2 separate regions of the Homo sapiens genome follow, and region 2 is linked to region 1. A link means that fine-mapping ties the variant in region 1 to the expression of a gene that starts in the linked region. Tissue or cell type: cerebral cortex. Region 1 holds a variant in brackets; the other region holds the start of a gene. All regions are shown on one strand. Distances are from middle to middle.

Region 1 (7,236 bases):
AACCAAAAATGTTTCCAGACATGCCCTAAATGTTTCCTGCAGGGGGTGGGGGCAAAGTCACCCCTGGTTGAGAACCACTGTTGTGTAGCCTTTGGTTCTATTTGACTTTTTTTTTAACCACGTGCACATTATTTCTATAATTAAACATTTAACTGAGGTCACAAGACCGAAGAGGAAATATGAAGCTGTTATAAGGAACCAGAACAACTAAGTAGAGAATATACAGTAAAGGATAGGGAAGCAAGTTAGCAAAGTGGGAAGAAATGGAATATAAATAAAAGAAGTAGAAATGAAGAAATGAGAATCACTTAAATCTGTTCCCTCCTTGTAACAAAACCAAGCTGGAAGTTTAAACCCATCTTTGAGAGACTGCAGAGCAGGGCCAAAGATGGAGAGACCCTGGCCACATCGCTTCCAAAGACCCTCTTCACCTATAAGTAATTTCTTAAGAACTTTCTGGCCGGGCGCAGTGCCTCACGCCTGTAATCCCAGTACTTTGGGAGGCCTAGGCGGGTGGATCACGAGGTCAGAAATGAAGAGAGTATCTGAGTCTTGGAACTAGAGGAGCAGGATCCTGAAGTCCCACATAGTCCTGTCACTGAGGTCCCTGTCAGGCCTCTGAGCCCAAGAAAAGCCATTATATCCCCTGTGACCTGCACGGATACATCCAGATGGCCTGAAGCAACTGAAGATCCACAAAAGAAGTTAAAATAGCCAGTTCCTGCCTTAACTGATAACATTCCACCATTGTGATTTGTTTCTGCCCCACCCTAACTGATCAATTGACTTTGTGACAATACACCCTCCCCACCCTTGCGATAAGTACTTTGTGATATTCCCCCACCCTTGTGAATGTACTTTGTACGATACACCCTCCCCACCCTTAAGAAGGTACTTTGTAATATTCTCCCCACGCTTGAGAACGTACTTTGTAAGAAGATCTACCCCCTGCCCGCAAAAAATTGCTCCTAACTCTATCGCCTATCCCAAAACTATAAAAACTAATGATAATCCCATCACCCTTTGCTGACTCTCTATTCGGACTCAGCCCGCCTGCACCCAGGTGAAATAAACAGCCTTATTGCTCACACAAAGCCTGTTTGGTGGTCTCTTCACACAGACGTGCATGGCATTTGGTGCTGAAGACCCGGGACAGGAGGACTCCTTCGGGAGGCGGGTCCCCTGTCCTCGCCCTAACTCTGTGAGGAGATCCACCTACAACCTCGGGTCCTCAGACCAACCAGCCCAAGGAACATCTCACCAATTTCAAATTGGGTAAGCGGTCTTTTCACTCTCTTCTCCAGCCTCTCTTGCTACCCTTCAATCTCCCTCTCTTGCTACCCTTCAATCTCCCTGTCCTTCCAATTCCAGTTCTTTTTCCTCTCTAGTAGAGACAAAGGAGACACATTTTATCTGTGGACCCAAAACTCCGGCGCTGGTCATGGACTCAGGAAGACAGCCTTCCCTTGGTGTCTAATCACTGCGGGGATGCCTGCCTGATTATTCACCCACATTTCATTGGTGTCTGATCACCACGGGGATGCCTGCCTTGGTCATTCACCCACATTCCCTTGGTGGCAAGTCAATTGTGGGGACGCCTGCTTTGGCTGCTCACCCACATTGCAGCCCAGGGCTGCTCATCACCCCCTGCTCCGTGTCTCTACCTTTCTCTTTAAACTTACCTCCTTCACTATGGGCAACCTTCCACCCTCGATTCCCCCATCTTTTCCCTTAGCCTGTGTTCTTGAAAACCCCTTCAACTCACACCTGACCTAAAACCTAAATGCCTTATTTTCTTCTGCAATACCACTTGGCCCCAATACAAACTCGAAAATAGTTCCAAGTGGCCAGAGAACGGCACTGTCAATTTGTCTATCCTACAAGACCTAGATAATTTTTGTCGAAAAATGGGCAAATGGTCGGAGGTGCCGTACATCCGGGCGTCTTTCACACTTCATTCTCTCCCTAGTCTCTGTTCCCAATGCGACTTGTCCCAAATCCTCCTTCTTTCCCTCCCACCTGTCCCTTCAGTCCCAACCCCAAGTGTTGCTGGGTCTTTTGAATCTTCCTTTTCTACCGACCCATCTGACCTCTCCCCTCCTCCCCAGACTGCTCCTCCTCAGGTCGCTCCCCACCAGGCTGAATCAGGCTCCAGCTCCTCTTCAGCCTCCGCTCCCCCACCCTATAACCCTTCTATCACCTCCCCTCCTCACACCCAGTCTGGCTTACAGTTTTGTTCTGCGACTAGCTCTCCCCCACCTGCCCAACAATTTCCTCTTAGAGAAGTGGCTGGAGCTGAAGGCATAGTCTGGGTACATGCGCCTTTTTCTGTATCAGACTTTTCCCAAATCAGCCAGTGTTTGGGCTCTTTCTCATCAGACCCCGCTAAATATATACAGGAATTCCGATATCTAACTCTGTCCTGCAAGTTAACCTGCAGTGACTTAAATGTCATCCTGACTTCCACCCTCTCCCCAGATGAACAGGAAAGAGTTTTTTCTCTAGCCCAGTCTCACGCTGACAACCGCTGGCTTCATGAGCCAGGCCTCCAGGAAGGCATCAGAGCAGTTCCCCGAGAGGACCCCCAAAGGAACTATCAGGCAGATTCCCCAGGTATAGCTAGGCGAGATTACATGATTTCCTGCCTAGTTGAAGGGCTTAAAAAGGCAGCACACAAAGCTGTTAATTCTGACAAGCTAAAGGAAACTACCCAAGGTAAAGGCGAAAACCCAGCCCAGTTCCTGGCCCGCTTGGCAGCAACCCTTAGACGCTTTACCGCCCTAGACCCAGAGGGGCCGGAAGGCCGCCTTATTCTTTTTTTTTTTTTTTAGATGTATTTTACTTTTATTTTTTTAATCTTTGGGCACAAAGATTTGACACATTATTTCAAAAGAATACAACTACTCATCCAGTAGGAATAAATTCAACAAACATTAATTGATGAGCAAAGTACTGGCTTTAAAAAAATAAACTAAGTAAATTTTTTTTCCCTTGGGTAATAAAATAATAATAAAAGAAGAGACATTGGGTTAAGCACCCTTAGGGCAAAATAAAAATGCAATTGGTTTCTCAAAAACTTGCTTTTGACATCTCAAAAAAAGTCATGCTAGGGAAATGAGCTAAGAAAGCACATTGTTATTTGTACGTGGTAGTGTGACATCCTTGCCATGTTGAAGGTAAGACCATCTAAAGGTCAAGACAGTACACAGAGACTATAAAAACAAAATTGAAATAAAAAGCAGGATAATAAAATGAAAGGAAAAGTAGAAACTGCCAGAAAGAAGCAGAAGCAGCACAACTGTCAAGGAGACAGTGTAAATTCAGATGCCATCAAGCTTTACCACAAAGAGATAAAGGAAAAGGCCAATTTTGATGACAAATGACAAAGTGTAACATCCAAAGAGAAATGGAGAAAAAAGAGGTCATCTGTCCTCCTGTGAACATTTGAATAGTTCTCAGATACACTTAGTTTGAGCAGAATTATGTGATTACTGAGTTCTTCCCTCTCTGCTTGGCAAAAATGATGGAAGTCTTGTCTCCAATTTTAACCCTATTTGCCTTTTTGCAACAATATGGCAGGTTGTTTACATGCTGGCTGGGGAAAGGGAAACTAAGAGTAAAAACCAACCAGTTGTTACTTTGCAAAATGGAAATGTAACTCTGAGGATTAAGCAATCTTGACTGCTAACAAAATTAATTCCTGAACACCATGAAAAAGGAAAAAATACATAGAAATTGATATTTTAAACGTTAAATATTCAGCAGTTTCTCTTATTTGGCAAAATCTTTTTGAAGCAAAGCTGATCTCATTTTGGTTTAGATCACATCAAAGAATTTCCACCAAAAATGACTGAATTATTGCTATTTACTAAAATGGTTTTCATTCTGTGACATTTTTCTGTTTCAACCAAAATTGGTGTACTAAAAGCCATTTCTGGCACTGACCATCTACAGTTAGTGCAGACTCCATAAGTTAAGGGCTTAATCCTTCACAAATCTTCTCTTCAGATTCCAGCTGTACTTTGGGGGTCCCCAGGTCACCCACACTTCTGAACAACTAGCTATAAATTTGGTGATTCCCATGACCCTGTTAGTGTTACCGTGGGTCTTTGCTCACAGAGCTCCCAAGATGGTGG[T/C]GAGCCGCTTCCAAGATGGTGGCAAGCCTTGTGTTCTCTGACTTGGGGTTCTTGGCCTCACGGATTCCAAGGAATGGAATCTTGGGCCATGCGATGAGTGTTATAGCTCTATTAGAAGCCGTGGGTCACGGAAGAGAACTGTGGAACCCAGTGACTAGTGTTCAGCTCGATTAGGACGAACCCAGGCACTTAGCCGTGCAAGAACAATGGGAAGCCTTTAGCACGATCGGGAGTGGCAATGGGAGTCTCACTGGGTCAGGAGCACAGCAGACACCCTGCCGGATCTGGAGGGATGGGAGTCAGCAGCAGGATGGGAGTCAGCGGCAGGTCTGCGACAGTGGCAAACAGCAGTGGTGGACGGGGAGCGAAAGCTCAGCTCGAGCCGTAACAAACATGGACCAGAAGAGTGCAGTTGCAAGATTTAATAGAGTGAAAACAGAGCTCCCATACAAAGGGAGGGGACCCAAAGGGGGTTGCCATTGCCGGCTTGAATGCCCGGGTTTATATCCCGATCCTTGTCCCTCCTGCTGTGCTCTCAGGCAAAAGGTGATTGGCTATTTCTTTACCTCCTGTTTTTGCCTAATTAGCATTTTAGTGAGCTCTCTGATTGGTTGGGTGTGAGCTAAGTGGCAAGCCCCATGTTTAAAGGTGGATGCAGTCACCTTCCCAGCTACGCTTAGGGATTCTTAGTCGGCCTAGGAAATCCAGCTAGTCTTGTCTCTCAGTGCCCCCTCTCAACAGGAAAACCCAAGTGCTGTTGGGGAGGTTGGCTGATGACCGCTGTAACTGCTTCCTGCTGAATTGGGGCATAGTAGGGGTTGCACAGTTGAGATTTCCTCGGGGGGGGTGCCTTCGATGTCATTAACATCGGAGCATGGGCTAGCAGGCTGGTCCAGGGGTCTGTGGTGGATCTTAGTCATGGACTGCATCTGGGGCTCCATTTGAAGAACCATTTGTAGTTTTACAGTTTCAATTCTGGAAGAGACAAACTTAACAAGGAGGTTAAAGATACAGGGATTGAAATGTATGGCCTGCAGTGCAGGGAATTACTTCTTTGGCACACTTTACAGGCCCTGACTATCTGCTTGATAGTTTTGAAAGACCTGGTCCAGTAAATAATAATTTGGCCATCTGATGGGTGCTATCAATGCCTAAGTGAAAGATTTGGTGAAGGGTTTAAAGTAATTTCCATTGGTTAGCTGCAGGCATAAGTATTTTTCCTTCTTCGGTGGCTAGCCATCTTGAGGAGAGGAAACTATGTCTTCTTGAGGTTCCTCATTCTATTTCTTCTTCTGAGTACTGGGGCTTGGTTTCCTGGAGGGGATTACCTCATACTAGGGGTCCTTCTATAAGCATTTCTAATGGAGGGTCCTGCCTTGTGGCTCTTTTGGCTTCAATATCTGCTTGGCGGTTCCCTTCTATTTCCCTTTCCTTTCCTTTGTGGTGACCCCGGCAGTGTAAGACTGTCACCTCTTTAGGTTTCTGTACAGCCAATAGTAATCTCCTAATGGCTTCCAGATGTTTGATAGGTGTTTCCTTGGAAGTTAGGAATTCCCTTTCTCTCCATACTGCTGCATGGGCATGGAGGACTAGGTGAGCATACTTAGAGTCTGTATATATATTTACCCTTTTCCCTTCTCCTAATTCTAGTTCCCGAGTGAGGGCTATTAGTTCTGCCAGCTGAGCACTAGTTCCTGGAGTGAGGGGATTACTTTCAAGTATTCCATTATCACTAACCACTGCATACCCTGCTTTTCAAAGCCCTTTTTCTACAAAGGAACTTCCATCAGTATACAAGTTGAGGTCGGGATCAGTCACGGGAACCTCTAAAAGGTCCCCTCTAGCGGCACTGGTTTGAGCAATTACTTGTTGACAGTTATGTTCTATCTTTTCTTCATTGTCTGGAAGAAATGTGGCTGGGTTAAGAGTTGCACAAGTGCACAGTCGCAGCACTGGCCCTTCAAGTAATACAGCTTGATATTTAAGTAAATGGTTGTCTGACAGCCACAAGTCTCCTTTAGCAGTGAGTATGCTGTTTACATCATGAGATGGCCACACAGTAAGATCACCTGTATTATTTTAACTGCTTCAGATACTAAGACTGCTACTGCTGCCACTATCCGTAAACAATGGGGCCAACCCTTTACCACTCCATCAATTTCCTTACTCAGGTATGCCACGTGTTGCAAGCTCATCCCTCGGACCTGTGTAAGGACTCCTAGAGCTATTCCTGTTTCTTCTGTGACATATAAAGAAAAGTCTTGCCCCATTGGCAAGCTTAACACTGGGGCTTGGGTTAGGGCCTTCTTTAGGGCCTGGAAAGCCGCTTCTGCTTCAGGTGTCCATCTTACTAAATGGGTATTGGCTTTCTGAGTTTCCTTAATTAGTGTATATAATGGCCTGGCTATTTCGCTGTACCTGGGAATCCATATTCGGCAGAAGCCTGTTATGCCAAGGAACCCTCTTAGTTGCTTTTGGGTTGCCGCCTTATTCTTAATATGCATTTTATCACCCAATCTGCTCCTGATATTAGGAAAAAACTCCAACAATTGGATTCCGGCCCTCAAACCCCACAACAGGACTTAATTAACCTTGCCTTCAAGGTGTACAATAATAGAGAAGAGGCAGCCAAGTGACAAGGCATCTCTGAGTTACAGCTACTCGCCTCTGCTGTAAGACAACCCACAACCACGTCTCCAGCACACAAAAACTTCAGAACATCCAAGCCACAGTTCCCAGGGGCTCCTTCAAAACCTCCTCGTGGACCTGGCTTCAAATGCCAAAAGCCTGGCCACTGGGCCTGAGAATGCCCACAGCTCGGGATTCCTCCTAGGCCGTGCCCTGTCTGTGTGGGCCCCCACTGGAGGTTGGACTGTCCGACTCACATCGCCACCATTCCTAAAGCTCCTGGAGCTCAAACCCAACGTTCCTTGGCTGACTCCTTCCCACATCTGCTCGGCTTAGCAGCTGAAGACCGACACTGCCCAATCGCCTTGGAAGCCCCCTGGACCATCACAGACGCGCGTGACAGTCCCCAGCACTGCAGAGATCTGAGATCCAATAACAGTCTGCAGAGGTCTACTCACACCATAGCCACTGC
Region 2 (6,388 bases), 26 kb after region 1:
CAAAGGTGCCACTCCGCAGCAGGTGCAGTGGAGGCCGAGGCTTGGCCATGAGGAGCACATCAGTGAAGAGGAAGAACATGCGGGGCCGAGGCTCCCCATGGGGAGGCACCACTAACAGCCAGCCCTGGCGTAGGAACCAGCGCCCTGGGGGATGGGAGCGCTGTTATTCTGGTGCAGCTTCAAGATACATGGGAATAAGAGGAAAGGGAGGCTGAGAAAATAGGGGTTATGTGCTGGGTCAGTACAGGAAGAAGGGTGAGTAAGAAAAGAGCAGCTGGTCGGCATTTGGAGTTAGATAAAAATAAAAGATGGGGCAGTTGAGGATTGAAGGGGAAGTAGGCAAGCTACCTGAGGTCAGCCCCTTTGCCTGGCGTCCACTGAGCAGAGCCTGGACACGCCGAAGGTGCTGGTCATTCTTCTGTTTCTGACCAATAGTATGGACTCTCTGGGCAGTCTCACTTATCAGTCGGGCAGCCCCTGGAATAACATCTCCCACCTTACTCCCCATACAACTTTGACTTTGGGTGCCATGGTTGTGAAAGAGGTTATTCTGGAAGGGACCAGGGTCAGGGTCTGACTTCTTGAAGAAAAGGCAGAGCAGTAGGGACACTGTATACATGTCAGTGGAAGATAGGGTCATACCAGACATTGTTGGAGGTCAGAATCAGAAAGGAATACAGGAGAGGAAGCCTCCAGCCTGCGTTGCCGAGGAGCAAGAACCTACGTGTGAGCTGTTGATGGTCAGGGCTGTTGGGACCTGTGTTTTCAGCCAAAGCTACGACGAGATTCTCATACCTGGAATTCAACAGTGGGAAGTCTGAGGGGAAGCAGAGCCAGGCAGAATTCCCCCTGCCTGATGTGCAGATCACCCTCTACCCATACTTCAATTGAAGGCCAGGAAAGATCTGCTTCTGGCTACTGTATCCCCTTCTTTCATGTAGGACTCAGAACCAGGCTCACACCACACAGCCCTCTTCCATCCCACACTGAAGAGTCACTGGCAGACTAGCCATACTTCAGGAGGCCAGATTGGAAGATGAAAGTTTATCAACCCAAGGAGGATGCTACAGACAGCCTGACTATAGCCCTTAACTCAGGCTTAACCCAGAGACAGAAATTCTAACCCAGGCCAGCCCCGCATCTGAAACTTTTCCAGAAACCGTGCCTCAGGCCCTAGTACAGGCCCCCTCACTTCAATTTAAAGTTCCACAGTTCCAGCTGAGGGCCTCAGGCTGCAGACCCTGGGTACTCCAATGGGTTCACATTTACTCTTGCAAAAGGTTTTTAGAAGCAATTTGGCTCAGGGTCGAGGCAAGAGTTTGGGATCGACCCCAAGGCATCCCACAAAGCTGAGGGCAGCAGTCATACAAACTAAAAGAGAGAGGCGGCTGGAATCAAGAGTTCACTCACTGCTGGAGCCGTTGCAGAGGCAGAGGGAGCAGGTCCTGGAGCTGAAGGCCCCCAAACTCAGGGCGGCCTTCCTGAAGCCGTACAAACCTCCGGAAACCTTTATTTTTCTTTAGCTGCTCCTGGAGTGAGGGAGAAAGGATTGGAAGCAGGGAGAGAAGCCACTCCTTATATTGCATTCATCTGTATCCACATTCCCAGCCTTCAGTAAGCTGTGCTCCTGAGAGAAACTCTCGTTTCTCTACAAGGAACTTACCACAGAGCTGAGCACCCAGAGGGCTCTATAAATGCAGGAAATGTATGAAGTTTGGGTCTCCAGATGAAGGGGAAAGGTAAGGGGCAAGATTTGAGGTCATCTCCAGGTTACCTGCAGGGTGGTCTGGGACCTCTCTGAGTTGGCAGCAAATTGGTTATAGAGCTCCAAGTGGCGGCAGAAGCCCTCCAGCCCTTGGCCCCAGCATCCTCCTTCCAGGTAGGGAAGCAGCTCCCTGTGTGGGCAAGGACAGCAAAAGGGCAGCTCTAGAACCACTCAAGCACCACCTCATTTAGTTTTCATGAGAATAGCACTAATAGTAGTGCTATTACCCCATTGTACAGATGGAGAACAAGGGCATGCTAAGGCCCTGGGCCAAGGCCACAGGTGAGCTAACTGGCGGACTCCAAATAGAACCTAAGTCTGACTCCAAGCTCTGTGCACGGCCACAGGCCAGGACTCTCCCTCCTTTCCTCTCCCTGTGCCCCTTCCACTCACTGGCTGGCGCCGTAGATGAGCTCCCAGGAGCCAAACAGGGCCTGGCGCTCAGGTGGTCGCAGGGTCCCCTTGGCTTTCAGGATCCCCAAAAAGTACTGCGGAAGGAGAGAACATTGGTTCTTAGCCTAGAGGAAGAGAAGGCTAACGCCAAGCGCCCCCAGAAACCGCAGAAGTCTGCCCAGGCTCCCTACATGCTCCGGGTTACCGACCTCGCAGAGACCCTCCCACACCCTGGGGTCCCTGTCCTATAATGGGAGCGTGTGCCAGGTCCCCCACCGTGGCCACCAGCCCCAGCTGTTCTTGGTAGCGCCGCTCGGTCTCTAGCAGCTCCCGGGCGGTGCAGGCGCGTTTCCGCTCCCAGCGGGCACGCTGCTCTTGCACCGGGCACCGCGAACCGGGGCAGGAGAGCTCCATGCCCTGGCTGAGGGATCGACACTTCCGGCTGCAGTCCGCGGCAGATTCAAATCCCAACCGCTCGCGGGCGGGAGCCGCGGAGGCGGGGCCGGGGAGGGCAGCGCGCAGGAAGGAGCATGCGCGGCGAGCGGCCGGACCGCGCAGGGTCTCTTCTGTCCAGCCCCACCGCCAGAGCGGCGCTTTAGGTGCGCGGCGCCGGCCAAGGCAGGGCAGGGCAGGGCAAGGTTGGGGGCAGGTGTGGAGCCCTCCTCTGAGTGGCACTATGTTGGAGCAGCAGCCTGAACTTTGAGTCAGGAGACGGGCTGCAGATGCTGGCAGGAACTTAATGTCCTATCTGGAGAATTGGGACGGGGGGCGGTCATTACAGTACACATTCTGTCCTGGGCCCATGCCAAATGCCAGGGGGTCAGTTGTTCCCAGAATTGGCTAGGAAAAGGTATAGCCATTTGAAGGAATGATATGAAAGTATTAAAAATGGTGTTGTAAAGAAGCTATCGATATGGGAAAACGCACATAGTAAGTATATTGCTGAGAGGAAAAAAAGCAGGCTACAAAGGTGTATAATATAATCCCCTTTGTATAAAACATATATAAAATGTTGGAAGGCAAAACAATCAAAAGTTAACTCTGTTGCCAGGCACGGGAGCTCACACCTGTAATTCCAGCACTTTGGGAGGCAGAGGCAGGAGGATCACCTGAGCCCAGGAGTTCGAGACTCCATCTCTCCAAAAAAAAAATAAATAAATAAAAAATAAAAATAAAAAGTTAACTGTGGTTTTTATCTCCGGGTAATGGAATTGAAGATAATGTGTTTAACAAATGTGTATTAAGTACCTAATCTGTATCTGTGCCAGGCACTGGATCACTGAAGCTAAAGGGATGAATGGGACAAACAGGGTGATTTTAAAAATTCTCTTATACTTCTGCCTTTCCCAAGTTTTCTACATTAAGCATGCATTACTTTGTAGTTAGAAAAAAAAAGTTATTAAAAAAAACAAAATGTCAGAAACTTTAGGCTCCCTCCCTACTGTTTTGGACTCCTAGGAATCTGGGCCGCAAGCCAAGAACCAGAGGATTGTCAGGGTTCTGAGGTCTCTACCACCTCCCCACCAGCTCTGACATTCTAAGAATTCTAAGAAAGGAATAATGCTGGGCTTAGACCAGGGAGGAATAACTTGAAGGGCTTGGATGAAGGAAGGGGAGAGTTTGGATCAGACTGTACCTTGGGCTTATGTCCCAAGGAAACTGGTGGTGATACCAGATAGGTAAAGGACTGGTTACACTGTCTCAAGTGAATGTGGGACAGTCCACACACTAAGAGCTCAAACATGGAAGAGGACAGATAATCCCATGGTAATTGGTGTCACTGTGAGCCCAGGTGATGAGAGTAGACCACAACACCTGGGGTGCAGTTGGTGATGGGTGTGTTTGTGAATGCTGCCAGTGTGTGTTAGTGCTTTGGGTGGGTGGAAGAGGGGTGGGGAATAGAGCCTCCTGTGAGCATCGGTTGGGGAATCATTCAACTCTAGAAGAGGAAGAGGGCAAAGCCGAGAAGACACACTGAAAACAGTTGGTGACAACTAATTCCCTGGGGACCGAGTCTCCCACAGAGCAAGTCAGGCACACCATACTCTACCTGGAACAGCTGCTAAACTCCGCTCCCACAGCCAAAGATAGGAGGGGCCAACAGGAGGAGGTTCAGAGGATAGTCAATAACCCCTTTATTCTTTAATTATCCTCAAATTTTGCTTTCAATCCGATGGATGCTGGAGAAGCACTAGGGATGCTTTGAACAACAATCATCAGTCATTCAACAAAATTAGGCTGGGCATGGTGGCTCACGCCTGTAATCCCAGCACTTTGGGAGGCTGAGGCAGGCGGATCACCTGAGGTCGGGAGTTACAGTTACAATGGCTGTGTGCTTCTTTATGTGTTGTCAGAGACCAGCCTGACCAATGTGGTGAAACCCCGTCTCTACTAAAAATACAAAATTAGCCGGGCATGGTGGCACGTGCCTGTAATCCCAGCTACTTGGGAGGCTGAGGCAGGAGAATCGCTTGAACCCAGGAGGCAGAGGTTGCAGTGAGCCGAGATCATGCCATCGCACTCCAGCCTGGGCAATAAGAGCGGAACTCTGTCTCAAAAAAAAAAAAAAATTAAATGCCAATCATGTGCCAGGTCCTGTGCTAGGCATGAAGATGAAATGGTGGGCAAGAGACATATGACCCCTGCCCACAGGGAGCTTACACTCCAGCATGGCAGATACAGTAAGGAGTCACCATAAAATGAGGAAACATTACAAGAGACATGTAGTCTTCTACACAAGCATGCAGTGAAGGGACTGATCCTAGTGTAGGAGTCAGGGAAGGCTTCTTCTCAAAGAAGTGATATGTGAACTGATGACCTGAAGGATGAATAAAACCTGGCTAGGCAGAGCTGGGCGCTGGCAGCAAGGGAAGTGGAAAAAAGAGTCAAACAGCATGGACAAAGGCTTGGACACACACATATGCAAGCATACGATGAATTTAAGGAACTGCTAGAAGTTCTGTAAGATGAGAGCATAGACTGCAAGGGAGAGAGTGATGACAAAGGAGACTGGAGAGGTAGACAGAGGCCAAACTTAGAAGGAATTTATATCAGTAAAATTGTGATATAAGTAATAATAAATTCAAAGTGGCTAAACATTAAGATAATTTATTGGCTCATGCAACTGAAAAGTCCAGAAGCAGGTGGGCCCTAGTGTTGGCCTAATCCAGCAGCTCAATCATGTTACCAAGGACCTCTTTCCACCACTCCACTGTGCCTTCCATGGTTTTACCTTCATCTTAAGGCTGGCTTCCATTGTGGGTACAAGATGGCTGCCCACAGTTACAATGGCTGTGTGCTTCTTTATGTGTTGTCCGCAGAGTTGGTTCCCTTAGCCATCAAATACTTCAGACAGAGAGCTTCACTGATTGGACCTCCCTAGGTCACAAGCCCACCATGGAAACCAGGGCAATGGCGGCCCTCTGAAGGCCACGTCAGGTACTGTGAACCTTATCCTAAGGGCAATGGGAAACCATTGAAAGGCCTTAAACAGGGAGTGAGATCATCAGATGTGCCATTTTAGAAACATCACTCTGGTTGGCTGGACTCAGCAAGACCCATCAGGAGGCAGTTGCAGTCATCCAGGTAAGAGGTGACGAAAGTATGAGCCAAGATGAAAAATGTAGATGAAAAATTTAGAAGGTAGAATCCATAGGGCATGGTTATTGAATGCTAGGGTGAAGGAAAAGATGAAAGTAGAGATGGTACCAGGTTTCTGGCTTCTAGGTGGAGGGTGGTGCTATTCACTGAAGGAGGATGAAAAGGAGATTTGCGGGGAAGACAAATTCAACCTGGGGCCTGTTAAACTTGAAATACTTGTGGGACATCCAAGTGGAGATGTCTTGGGTCTTGTCTATTAGGCAGATGGTTATGGGTCTGGCATGGGGAGAGAGTCCAGCCTGGGAATACTTGGGTGTCATCAATTTATAGGAGCCATGGGAGTGGATGACACGGCCTTGCAAAGATAAGTAGCAGGATAAGGGCAAAAGCATGAGAGTCTTCAATACGAACTCATCCCTTCTCATCCTGTGCGTCCACGTCAGTTCCCCTGCACTGATGGTGGACTAAATGGTGGCCCCATATAAAGACATGTCCATGTCCTAATCCCCAAGACCTGTATATGTGACCTTGTTGGGAAAAAGGGTCTTTGCAGACATAATTAGTTAAGGATCTTGAGATGAGATCATTCTGGATTATGTTGGTAGGCCCTAAATCCAATGACAAGTGTCT

What was found. PIP is the estimated chance that this variant, and not a neighbour inherited with it, causes the effect.
Region 2: ARHGEF39 starts here. The variant in region 1 is the best candidate, but not a certain one, in a credible set for the expression of ARHGEF39 in cerebral cortex (GTEx, PIP 0.57).

Annotation. Positions count from the first base shown.
Region 1 is chr9:35,636,211-35,643,446 of GRCh38, forward strand. It overlaps a transcript of CD72 not described here. Among named protein-coding and RNA genes, the nearest start is that of SIT1, 11 kb to the right of the region's middle. The variant T/C (reference allele first, on the strand shown) is at 4,137.
Region 2 is chr9:35,662,598-35,668,985 of GRCh38, forward strand. It overlaps ARHGEF39 (Rho guanine nucleotide exchange factor 39), which reads right to left and starts at 2,598. Exons shown (of 9, transcript NM_032818.3): 1 at 2,435-2,598; 2 at 2,159-2,253; 3 at 1,775-1,895; 4 at 1,411-1,529; 5 at 725-795; 6 at 349-477; 7 at 1-144. The coding sequence starts at 2,572. RefSeq lists an enhancer at 2,387-2,466 and a silencer at 2,617-2,766.